Regions from separate parts of the Homo sapiens genome. Here region 2 is linked to region 1. The links come from fine-mapping of genetic effects on gene expression. Tissue or cell type: prefrontal cortex. Region 1 holds a variant in brackets; the other region holds the start of a gene. All regions are shown on one strand. Distances are from middle to middle.

Evidence for each region. PIP is the estimated chance that this variant, and not a neighbour inherited with it, causes the effect.
Region 2: CYP26C1 starts here. The variant in region 1 is the best candidate, but not a certain one, in a credible set for the expression of CYP26C1 in prefrontal cortex (BrainSeq, PIP 0.58).

The regions. Positions count from the first base shown.
Region 1 is chr10:93,035,839-93,041,212 of GRCh38, reverse strand. The region is part of intron 20 of EXOC6 (exocyst complex component 6); the gene reads right to left. Among named protein-coding and RNA genes, the nearest start is that of CYP26C1, 22 kb to the left of the region's middle. RefSeq lists a silencer at 1,147-1,441. The variant A/T (reference allele first, on the strand shown) is at 2,741.
Region 2 is chr10:93,058,286-93,063,650 of GRCh38, reverse strand. It overlaps CYP26C1 (cytochrome P450 family 26 subfamily C member 1), which reads right to left and starts at 2,853. Exons shown (of 6, transcript NM_183374.3): 1 at 2,184-2,853; 2 at 1,417-1,641; 3 at 656-931. The coding sequence starts at 2,387. EXOC6 (exocyst complex component 6) reads right to left here. Exons shown (of 22, transcript NM_019053.6): 22 at 4,161-5,365. The coding sequence ends at 5,296. RefSeq lists enhancers at 673-842, 853-972, 1,926-2,835.

The sequences.
Region 1 (5,374 bases):
GAGAGAAGAGGATGGGTTTGAGAAATACTTAGGAGAAAAAAATCCCTAGGACGTGGTGATTGTCCAGGACATGGCAAAGTGGTTCTACCAATCAAAAAAGACAACATGAAAAAGGGATGTGATTTGAGAATAAGGGAAGATAACAAGTCAACAGCTTTGGTCACACAGCATGCGGGACACACACCTAAGTCAAATGGTTTACCAAGCAACTTGATATGTATCTAAGGCATACTGCCAGAGATCTGATGAAAGCGGGTCAGCTCACCTAGGTCAGGAGTATAGGGAGCAGTGTTCTAAGGACAGAAACCTTGGGGAAACCAACATTTAGGGGGCAGAAAAGGAGACCACAGAAAAGAAAGAGGAAGGATGTTAAGGGAGTACAGACTCAGAAGACGAGAGAATTTTAAAGAGAACATGATCCACATTACCAAATGCAGCAGAAAGAACCAATAGGATATGGGCTAAAAATGTCTACTGGCCTTCCCTGGTGACCTAAGTGAACACTATTTCAGCAGTGTGGCAAAGCAGATAGGAATGGATTGAGAAATGAATGAGAGATGTGAAAATAAGAATAATCAATTATAAACCACTCTTTTAAGGATGCAAATGAGGGAAGAGAAATTGGAAATAGCTAAAATGTTTTTAGGCTAAGAAAACGATAAAGCAGGCCGGGCGCAGTGGCTCACGCCTGTAATCCCAGCACTTTGGGAGGCCAAGGCAGGTGGATCACGAGGTCAGGAGATCAAGACCATCCTGGCTAACACAGTGAAACCCCGCCTCTACTAAAAATACAAAAAATTAGCCAGGGTGGTGGCAGGCACCTGTAGTCCCAGCTACTTGGGAGCCTGAGGCAGGAGAATGGCGTGAACCTGGGAGGCGGAGCTTGCAGTGAGCCGAGATCACGCCACTGCACTCCAGCCTGGGCAACAAGTGAGACTCCGTCTCAAAAAAAAGAAAAGGATAAAGCAGAGGAAAGGCAGATGAATAATGAAACAAAATGAAACAAAATCCCATACAAAAGATAGGGTCAAGGGCATAGGAAGATGAGAGCCTCATTAAAAAGGCTTCCTAACACCTGAGAATGAAGGACAGGAAGAATGGGTGTGGATATAGATAAGCTGACTGCAAAAGCAACAGTGAGAGGTTGATGGTGATAGAGATGGAAGACAAGAGGCTCAGAGGGGCTGGAGCTTTCACTCAAGAGTGGAGGAACAATGGTCTACAAATAGAAATGAGGAACCAGGGGAACACGAATCTCATTCACACGTGTAGCCATGAAAGAATGCATCCTGCCACTAGAGAGAGCTGCAGGGTTAGCAGTATCCTCCGAATTCTATGAAAAGGAGGTGAAGAAAGCATTCTGCCACACAGTTGAAGCAGTAGGGCCATTTACATTGCAATGAGGGTTTTCAGGTGGCATAGAATAAGTGGGCCAGAAGAAGTGAAAAGATGAGTAGACAAAACAAGGAGTGAATGAAACAGGAAAAAAGTTGGAAGGTGAGAAGGAGTAGAGTAAGGAAGTGGAAACTACTTAATTTCATTGAATAATCAAATTTTATTTTAATCTTCTCAGATGAAGGATGTGTGACTGAGAAGTAACAGAAACAGCAGTGTCTGACCAAGTCTCAGAGAGAAATGGTGGAGGCTGCCCTGAGATTTTCAAAAGGGAAGAGAAGCCTCTATTTGGATGGGGTGAATGTCCAGATATCTGGAGCAGCAGCAAGGGCACTTGCTGGGGAGAGCTTCTAAGAGGTTTGGAGCCAGGGGTTAGATTTTTGGAAGTCCCTTCCAATCCTCAAGTCTTAGGATTTTATGACCATGAAAATCACTGAATCACAATTTGAAGGTAATTGGTAGATGTTCTGACATTTACGAAAACACAAATGGGTTCAAAGAAAAGGAGAGAAATATACATTGCAAAATACTCTAGGGACTAAACAGTGACTTAACTATGAGTACTAAGCACTGCAATGCATATCTAAGAGGAAGTTTAGAGAATAATGCTATAAATGGTAGTCTCAAATAAAAAAAATACCTTCAGCAATATCAGCCTTTTGGTGTATATTAGTAAAAATTTTCATGACAACTATTATCCACTTGGCTCTGAAGAGGTCACTATTGACCTTTTGGTCTCCCAAAGTGCTGGGATTACAGGCATGAGCCACCATGACCGGCCTTTTTTAATAGATGGTATATATATATATACATATATAGGTGGAAGAATACATCCCTTTGAAGTGCTAGCAAAGTGTTGGCAGCGTTGAGTTCTCTGCACCATCTAAATTAGAAGATAGGTGGCTCTATGGGCCATTGATAACTTCCTAAAGTGCGGAGTGTGTACATATACTTACTTTTCCTTTGTATGTTTGTTTTCACTTTCTAATCAAATTTTGAGTTCTTCAAGGGTAGAGGTAATAGCTCTTCTCCCTTTAGGGTACTCAAAGCTTGTTGAACTGAGCTAAATTATATTTCATAGAACACTTTAAGAAGCAAAAGTTTAAGAACTGTGTCTCTTCTGGGACAAAACAGCCATGAAGGAAAAGCAGAGATTATACATGAAAAAGCTTCTAATTTAAACCACTGGAAAGCTCAATATTGTTGAATCAATATTGCTTGAGTCTAGAACTCTGTCATGTATATATACGTCTCATTCAAGTAGAGTGCTGGCTGTTCTCTATAAAAGTAGAAGTTGACTTTCAGGGAAATTACGTGTCATGTTCAAATTTATATGTAAAATAGG[A/T]TTAGAAGATAATTTCTTCAATTTATAAATTAACTGCTTAAACAATTAGACTAGGATGGCTTAATTTACACAAACATTTCTTTTTATTTGTATGTGTAGCCAATCTGCTTTCAAAAAGAATGCTTAGTAGGATTTTTTTAGAACTCTGTTGTCAGATTCACACTTGATATGGCAAATACAGTATAGGTTGTCTAGGGAATATTATTTTATGTAGCAAAAAGATCATAACTGAAAATAGGAATTGTGGTTATAATATCCACTAGTATGTAAAACAAACAGTGCATTTACTGTTTTTCTAACAAAGCATTTAAATATTTAAACTTCCCATAACTATCCTCCAAACTGAAAGAAACCTGTAACAAAAAAAAAAATTTCCAGTCAACAAAAAAAATTTATTAGAGAAAAATTTTTTTTTTTTTTTTTTTTTTTTTTGGAGACGGAGTCTCGCTCTGTAGCCCAGGCTGGAGTGCAGTGGCGCGATCTCGGCTCACTGCAAGCTCCGCCTCCCGGGTTCACGCCATTCTCCTGCCTCCACCTTCCGAGCAGCTGGGATTACGGGCGCCCGCCACCGCGCCCGGCTAATTTTTTTGTATTTTTAGTAGAGACGGGGTTTCACCGTGGTCTCGATCTCCGGACCTCGTGATCCGCCCACCTCGGCCTCCCAAAGTGCTGGGATCACAGGCGTGAGCCACCGCACCCGGCCCGAGAAAAATATTTCTTAAAAATGAGTAATAGCCAGGTGCGGTGGCTCACACCTGTAATCCCAGCACTTTGGGAGGCTAAGGCAGGCGGATCACCTGATGTCAGGAGTTTGAGACCAGCCTGGCCAAAATGGCGAAACCCTGCCTCTACTAAACATAGAAAAACTAGCTGGGTGTGGTGGCACGTGCCTGTAATCCCAGCTACTCAGGAGGCTGAGGCAGGAGAATCGCTTGAACCTGAGAGGCAGAGGCTGCAGTGAACTGAGATCACACCACTATGCTCCAGCCTAGGCAACAAGAGAGAAACTCCATTTCAAAAAAAAAAAATGGAGAATAATAGGGCTGGATGTAGTGGCCCTATTAATCCCCGCACATTGGGTGGCTGAGGTGGATCGCTTGAGGCCAGGAGTTTCAGAACAATCTGGGCAACATGGCAAGACTCTGCCTCTACAAAAAATACAAAAATCAGCTGGGTGTGGTGGCATGCACCTGTAGTCCCAGCTACTCCGGAGGCTGAGGTGGATCACCTGAGCCTGGGGAGGTTGAGGCTGCAATGTGCCATGATCACACCACTGCACTCCAGCCTGGGCGACAGAGAAACCCTGTCTCCAAAAAAAAAAAAAAAAAGTAGAAGAAGAAAGGAAGTTTGGCAAAAATGTGAATTAATTTTGAGAGAAAAGATATAGCTCCTTGTTGAGTAATGCCAATGTTAATAGTTAATCATTAGTTTACTGCATATATGATATTTATCAAAGGCCAGAATATCACTACCCTCCATAGTTGACAAACTGTTCTAAAAATTTTAACCTATCCCTTTCAGTGAAAAAAAGAGCAGGAATATTGATAATTGAAAACAGGTAAATCTGGGACTGTCTCTTTTTACATTATGCACAGTCTGTGGAAACAAAGATTTAATCCTTGTGTAACTCACTGAAAATTTACCTTAAAATGTATCATATTACAATAATGCTTATATTGTAAATAAGAAATATTCTGTATTTGCCCAACTGCAAACTTAAATGACTTAATTTTTTCCATAAATCTGTTAGCTTTATTTATTGTCATATTGCCAAGTTACGTATCTCTTTTAAAAATAATTCTGATTTATATACTTTTTTGGAGAGCTTTTTCAGCAGTACCCAGTAATTCCACTTCTAAAGGCCTACAGAAATACTTACACAAGTGCTCGATATATATGTATAAATATATTAATGGCAGCTTCATTAATAGATAGACAAAACTAAAGAATCCATAATGTCCAACAAATGAGGACTTGTTTAATAAATTATGGTATATGTACACTATAGACAGTACAAAGAAATTAAAAAGAATGAAACATCCATATTTACCAATATGAAAGCATATGTTGCATGAAAAATGTGAATTATAACATACCTCCCCCAAAAAGGAAATAACTACATGTGTGCATGTAAGTATCTGCATGTATACATGTTCGAATGTACACTACAAAGGTCTGGAGGGAAATAATGACTGTGAAAGACTGAAGAGGAGGGGAAAATAAGAGCTTTCTCTTTTTTTTCTTTTTTTTTTTTGAGATGGAGTTTCACTCTTGTTGCCCAGGCTGGAGTGCAATGGTGTGATCTCGGCTCACTGCAACCTCCACCTCCCAGGCTCAAGTGATTCTCCTGCCTCTGCCTCCCAAGTAGCTGACATTACAGGCATGCGCCATCATGCCTAATGTTTTGTATTTTTAGTAGAGATGGGGTTTCTCCATGTTGGTCAGGCTGGTCTTGAACTCCCGACCTTCGGTGATCTGCCCGCCTCGGCCTCCCAAAGTGCTGGGATTACAGGTGTGAGCCACCGTGCCCGGCCTGAGAGCTTTCTTTTTAGGTTTGATTTTAGTTTAACAGTGAACATACAATATCTACTTCCTGTGTTTTCGTTTCTGTTTTTCTGGAGACAGAGTCTTGAT
Region 2 (5,365 bases), 22 kb before region 1:
CACATATTATTTTTATGCAGGTGACTGAAAACCAGGGAATCAAACAGTGGGAAGTCCCAGAATAGGGGGACCAAAAGGCGGGATGGGGCATCCTAGCTGCTCTCCGGGTCCTGCCCATTGTTCTGAAGTCTGGAGAAGCAGCAGTTCTCTGATCCCGAAACCTAGCGGGTCCAGGGCTGGTGGAGCTGACGCCCACACCCCTGGGTCCGGGGCTGGCGCTGGGCTGGACCGGGGCTCATCTGCAGCCCTCACGCTCTCCTCGGTTCCGCAGCCATCTGGGCTTCCGAAGAGGTGATGGAGGCCGGCCCCAGGGGCGCCGCTGTGGGAAGGAGTCCGACCGACTGGCAGGACGCCTGCCACCGAGACCCCAAACTCTGGCGGCCCGCGCTTGCTCAGGCTGGAGCGCGTCGCGGCAGGCGCGTCCCACGGAGGTCGTGTGGCCAGCCCCAGGTCACACCAGCGAACCAGCACAGAGGCCAGGCCCAGAGCCCACCGCCACGCCACCGCCACAACGCCTCCCACCCCCGGGCCCTGCCGCCGTTCCCAGCAGAGGTGACGGACGCGCGGGGTGCGCCGAGGGCGTCCCGTCTGGGTCTGGGAGGCCCGCCCGCGCCGCGGAGCCTCGGAGGAAGGTCTGGAGCCGGGGCGGCCGTACCTTGCGTAGGCCACTGAAGGGAACGTCCAGAGGCAGTGAGAAGAGGTTCTCCACGAGCTGCTCGAAGGTCCGGGCCAGCGTGGCGCACTGCGCCTCGTCCAGCCGCAACCCCAGCAGGATGCGCGCGGCCATGCGGAAGGTGAGCGCTTTGGAGGCGTCGTAGACTGAGACCGGCCCGCCCGCCGCGCACCAGGAGCGCACCTCATGCCGCAGCGCCCCCTGCAGGCGCGGCACGTAGCGCTCCAGCGCGGCGCGGCTGAACACGCGCGCCAGGACCTGTGGGAGCGCGCGTGATCAGCGCTGGCGGCGGTCTGGCCTCATCTGCTTGGCGATTCCGGAGTAGCCAGAAGGCCAGTTCCGGTCCTTTCTCCCTCTTCCAAGCGGCCCAGACCTAAACTTCCTGGCTTTTGCTTTCGCCATTTCCCCCAGTTCTGCTCTGATGCACACAGTCCCTCCCAACCATCCAGGCTCCAGCTGCCATCTCCTCTAAGAAGTCTTCCCTGGCCCCTTTCTAGGTCTGAGTCTCCAGCGCTTCTGCTATCACAGCCACGGAAGATGGGAGATGAAAGAATCTTTTAGCGCAGTCCTAACTTTATAAACCGAAGCTGAAGGTAACGGACCCGCCCAAGGCCACCCGCTAGTTACCAGGGACCTTGGTCGGGTTCACAGTGTATCCAACACCGGGGCCCCGGCCTGGCCCATGGCAGATGCCGGGGACCGCGGATCCGACGTATCTACGGTCCATTCCCGTTTCCACTCACCTTGCGCCGCCGCCGGTGCGGCTCGCCGACCGCACCTAGCAGTGTGTGCGAGCCCAGCAGGATGTGCGCACTCTGCGGCCACTGGCTGCGCACCAGGCGGTGCTCGCCCAGCAGGATGGTGCGCACGTTCTCCGCGCCGCTCACGCGGATCACTGGCCTGCCCAGCAGGTGCGTCTTGAACACTGTCCCATAGCGCTCTCGGCGAGAACTGTGGAAGCGCGAGCCCTGCGGGCGAGGCGGAGGGTGGAGAGCTGGAACTTCTGGGCCTGGGCTGGGATCTGACCCAGACCTTCCAGCTGCCTTTTGATCACAACTTCCTGTCCCTGGCTGGCGCGTTTACAAAACAAGATCCCCAGTGGGCCTGGTATCTACTCTACGGGAATGTACATGCTCCTGTTCCTATTGGTGAGATGAGGAAACAGACTCAGAGTGAAGAAGTGAGGGCCCAAGGGCTCACAGCTGGGCCAAGCTCCAGGCTCCTTTTCTACCCTTGCAGGACGTGCTCCTCAGACCCCTTCCTAAAACCCCTTATGTTTACCCCCTGCGTTGTGTCTGGGAGTTGCTCTGGGGGGAATTCCAGTGACTTGAGGTCCCTTCGAGGGAACGGAGTATCTAGGTAAAGGCGAGAGTTGTGCGCGCTTCCCGGGGTCGTGGGCGATGGGCAGGGACTGGCTACAAATCCCATGGGCATTGAGACTGAGGAGGGTCCAGTGGGAGCCGGGGGAAGAAGGGACCGTATTAGCGCTCGGGGTCGAAGGACTGCTCACCTGAACTAACCAGTGCAGCGTTTCGCCGAAGAAGGGCCACCCCATGGAGCCCTTGGGCAGAGGCAGGGTGGAGGCCCGGTCCCGGCTCAGCATCCAGCGGAGGGTCCAGAGGTGCTGGGCCAGGCTGAGCAGCAGGCCCGCGCACAGGAGAGCAGTGCCCGCCGCCCCCAGCACTGACAGGCAGCTCAGCCCCCAAGGGAACATGATGAGCCCGCGGGGGCCAGGCCGCTCAGAGCGCAGGGAGAGCAGGGGACGCAAGAACCGGGGCGCGAGCAGTGCGCAGTGCTCACCTGTTCCGTCCGCAAAAGGCCTGGGGTTTGGGGGCAAAGCCCGAGATTTATAAGCTCAGGCCAGAACTCTGTTCTAAAAACAGACGGACGGTGAAAGACTGCAGTGACCGTGCGCCCTTAGGGAACGTGCCTTCCTCGAGGCCGGCACGCTCAGGACTTTTTCCTGGCTCCTGGGCCCAAATGCCAGTCCCTCTCGAAGGTGCCTGCTGCCTCGGGAACGCTCACTCCCGGCTCCGCGGGGCACCTCCCACCTCCTCCCGGGCTCAGCACCCTTTGGATAGAAGAAGGGAAGGAGGGCGAAAGAAGAGCAACTCACCAGTGTTGCCAACCTGGTCTGCAGACCCCCGCCCCACCTGTCCCTCCTCCAGTCGTTTAACCCTTCTTGGCCCACGCTGGACACGTTTATATAGATATTGGCTCCCCCCCTACGGACCGATCCCGGTTCACACAACGTGACGTGTCTTTGCATATTTAAAGCGCTCCACGCAGAGTGGTGATTGGAGGCGGTGGGCAGCGGCGCGCTCACGGAGGGGCTCTGAGTAGGGAGTGGCAGGCGCCGGGGCGGCTCGAGCTGGGCTGGGGGCTCGCCCCGCGAGCGTCCTCGGGCGGGGCCTGCGGGTTCGCGCCAGAGCTTCCCCGCTCTTCGCAGGCGCTCAGAAAGTGGGCGAACCCAACGCGCAGAACTGACCCGGGCTTGCGCCCCGCAGTGCTCCTGGCCCACCCCCGGCCGCTGGCTCCCTCTGCCGTCCCCGCCCTCGAGCTTCTAGGTGCCTTTCTCTCGCCACTCCAAGGTGAAAGAACTGGGCTTTTCTCTCCTTTGCTCCGACTATTTCAGGGAAACTGCAGTCGTCGACGCCTGCGTTGGCATCGCAAAAGCCCAGGAGGGATAGCGCAGCCGAGATTCTCCGACAGCTCCCCACCTCTCCCGGCTCTCTGATCTACCACGTCAGGTATCCTTCCAAAGATGGCAGTTCCACTACTGCCCTAGGCTTCATAAAGACGTCCTAAGCCTCCAGAAGCGGATACCCACGAGCACCTTTCCGGTCTCAAGGACCGAATTCATCCTTCCCTGCACATCCTTCCCTCCCTCCCCCGAGTTTGCCCGACGACTCTTGTCAATCTACATTGTTGCGTTTTGGGCTTTGTGCGTCCCATTCAAGGGTTCCAAATGCCTCAGGACTCACTCGTTCTTGTCCCTACAGTGCAACCTGGGGTGTGTGTGGAGGGGTGCAGGGTGTTTATATTATTGGTAAGAGTAAAGAGGTCCCACAGTGGTCTCCTCCAGGCAGTGCAAAGGCAGTATCTCTCTGAATCCCGGGACGTCTCAGCCAAAGCAGGGAAGACACCCCAAGTACGCTGGAAGGCTGGGTAAGGCGCGAAGGGCAGCCCCATTCCAGTCTTCAAAGAGAGCTAGCTGTTCACCGCTCCTCTCCTCCAGATTTCACCGTGCCTGAAGAACTACCATGCTTTTCATGTAATATTTTTAAAAACATTAAATACTTTGGATTAAGAGATGATCGAGAGAACAAGTGCGCATATGTATATATATGTGTGTGTGTGTGTGTGTGTATGTATATATACTGTTTTGGTGCCACTCCCATTCCAGTAACTAGGAAATAATATGCCTTTTCTCCAGGAAGCACTTGTTTTAAATCAGTAAGCTCTGAATAGACAAAATAGTAATGCATTTTCAACAACTTGCTCAATATTTTTAATATTTCATCACAAAATCCAGAGATGTACATATAATTCTTTACACTTATTTTACAGAATCAGGCATAGTTTCTTACAGGCCTAAATCCTGAAAAGGCAAAGGGAAGATTCAGCATAAATACAACAAAGGGAGAATAAAGACTGGATTTATATTGCCATTTGGACCACGGAAACATACACAAAGGAAAATGTACATTTGTTTTAGGTTTTCCAGAGTTCATTTGGTTTGGCTTGTTTCCACAATGAGGATAAAGTACTGAAATCTGCTATTTGAAGAAAGTAACCTGACCCCTGTGGTAACTTCTGTGTGCAGGAACCATCTACCCTCGCACAAGCTGCACCTGAAGTGGTTAGCCCCATTTAGTTCCTGTCCTCTCTTTTAACTGGAACCAAACCAAACCAAACAAATCCAGAATGGGGTCACCTACAAGCAATATAGTTAGAAATATTAACCCTGATGAACAGAAACAACACTGCATCTTTAGAAAATCCAAAACCTTTTGTTCATATTCAGAACGATTAAATTAAACCACCCAAGTAGAACAAATAATTCACATTCTTACTGAGTTAAATCAAGTTTGATTTCAGGCAGCTTTTAAGATTTGTCTATTTCCCCTTCAGAATTAGCAGAATTAGAAATTTTGGTCTGCTTAAATCACATTGAGGTGAAAATAAAAGCTAAAAGTCAGAAAATGGTAGTGAAATACTACCATATCAGACATGATTGAATTCCAAAGCCATATACTGATCAAAAAACAGATTATCATTCAAGTCTAAATAGAAAAAAATACTTATGAGTAGAGGCATATGTTTTTCAAATGTATTTGTAATCAATTTCATGTATAATTTGTGACAATTTATGTATTACACTTTTGCATTTTCCCCTAAAAGTGAAAAAATGGTCATTTTTTTCCATATATAAAATAGTATTCGATTATTTAAAAATCCATACAAATGATATTTATTACTATTTCTTGTTTAAGCCCTCATGTATCTTCTCTATTGTATTTTTGGATTCTGTAAACAAATTACTGTATCATGACCAATACTTGCTCAAGATCAACATTGAATCATGGATTTGGTGTCACTGAGTGCAAGCCATGTGAGGTCTACATGTGCTGGGACATACCATTCACCAAACTTCTCAGCTGTTTCACGACTGTCTCTATCAACTTCTGT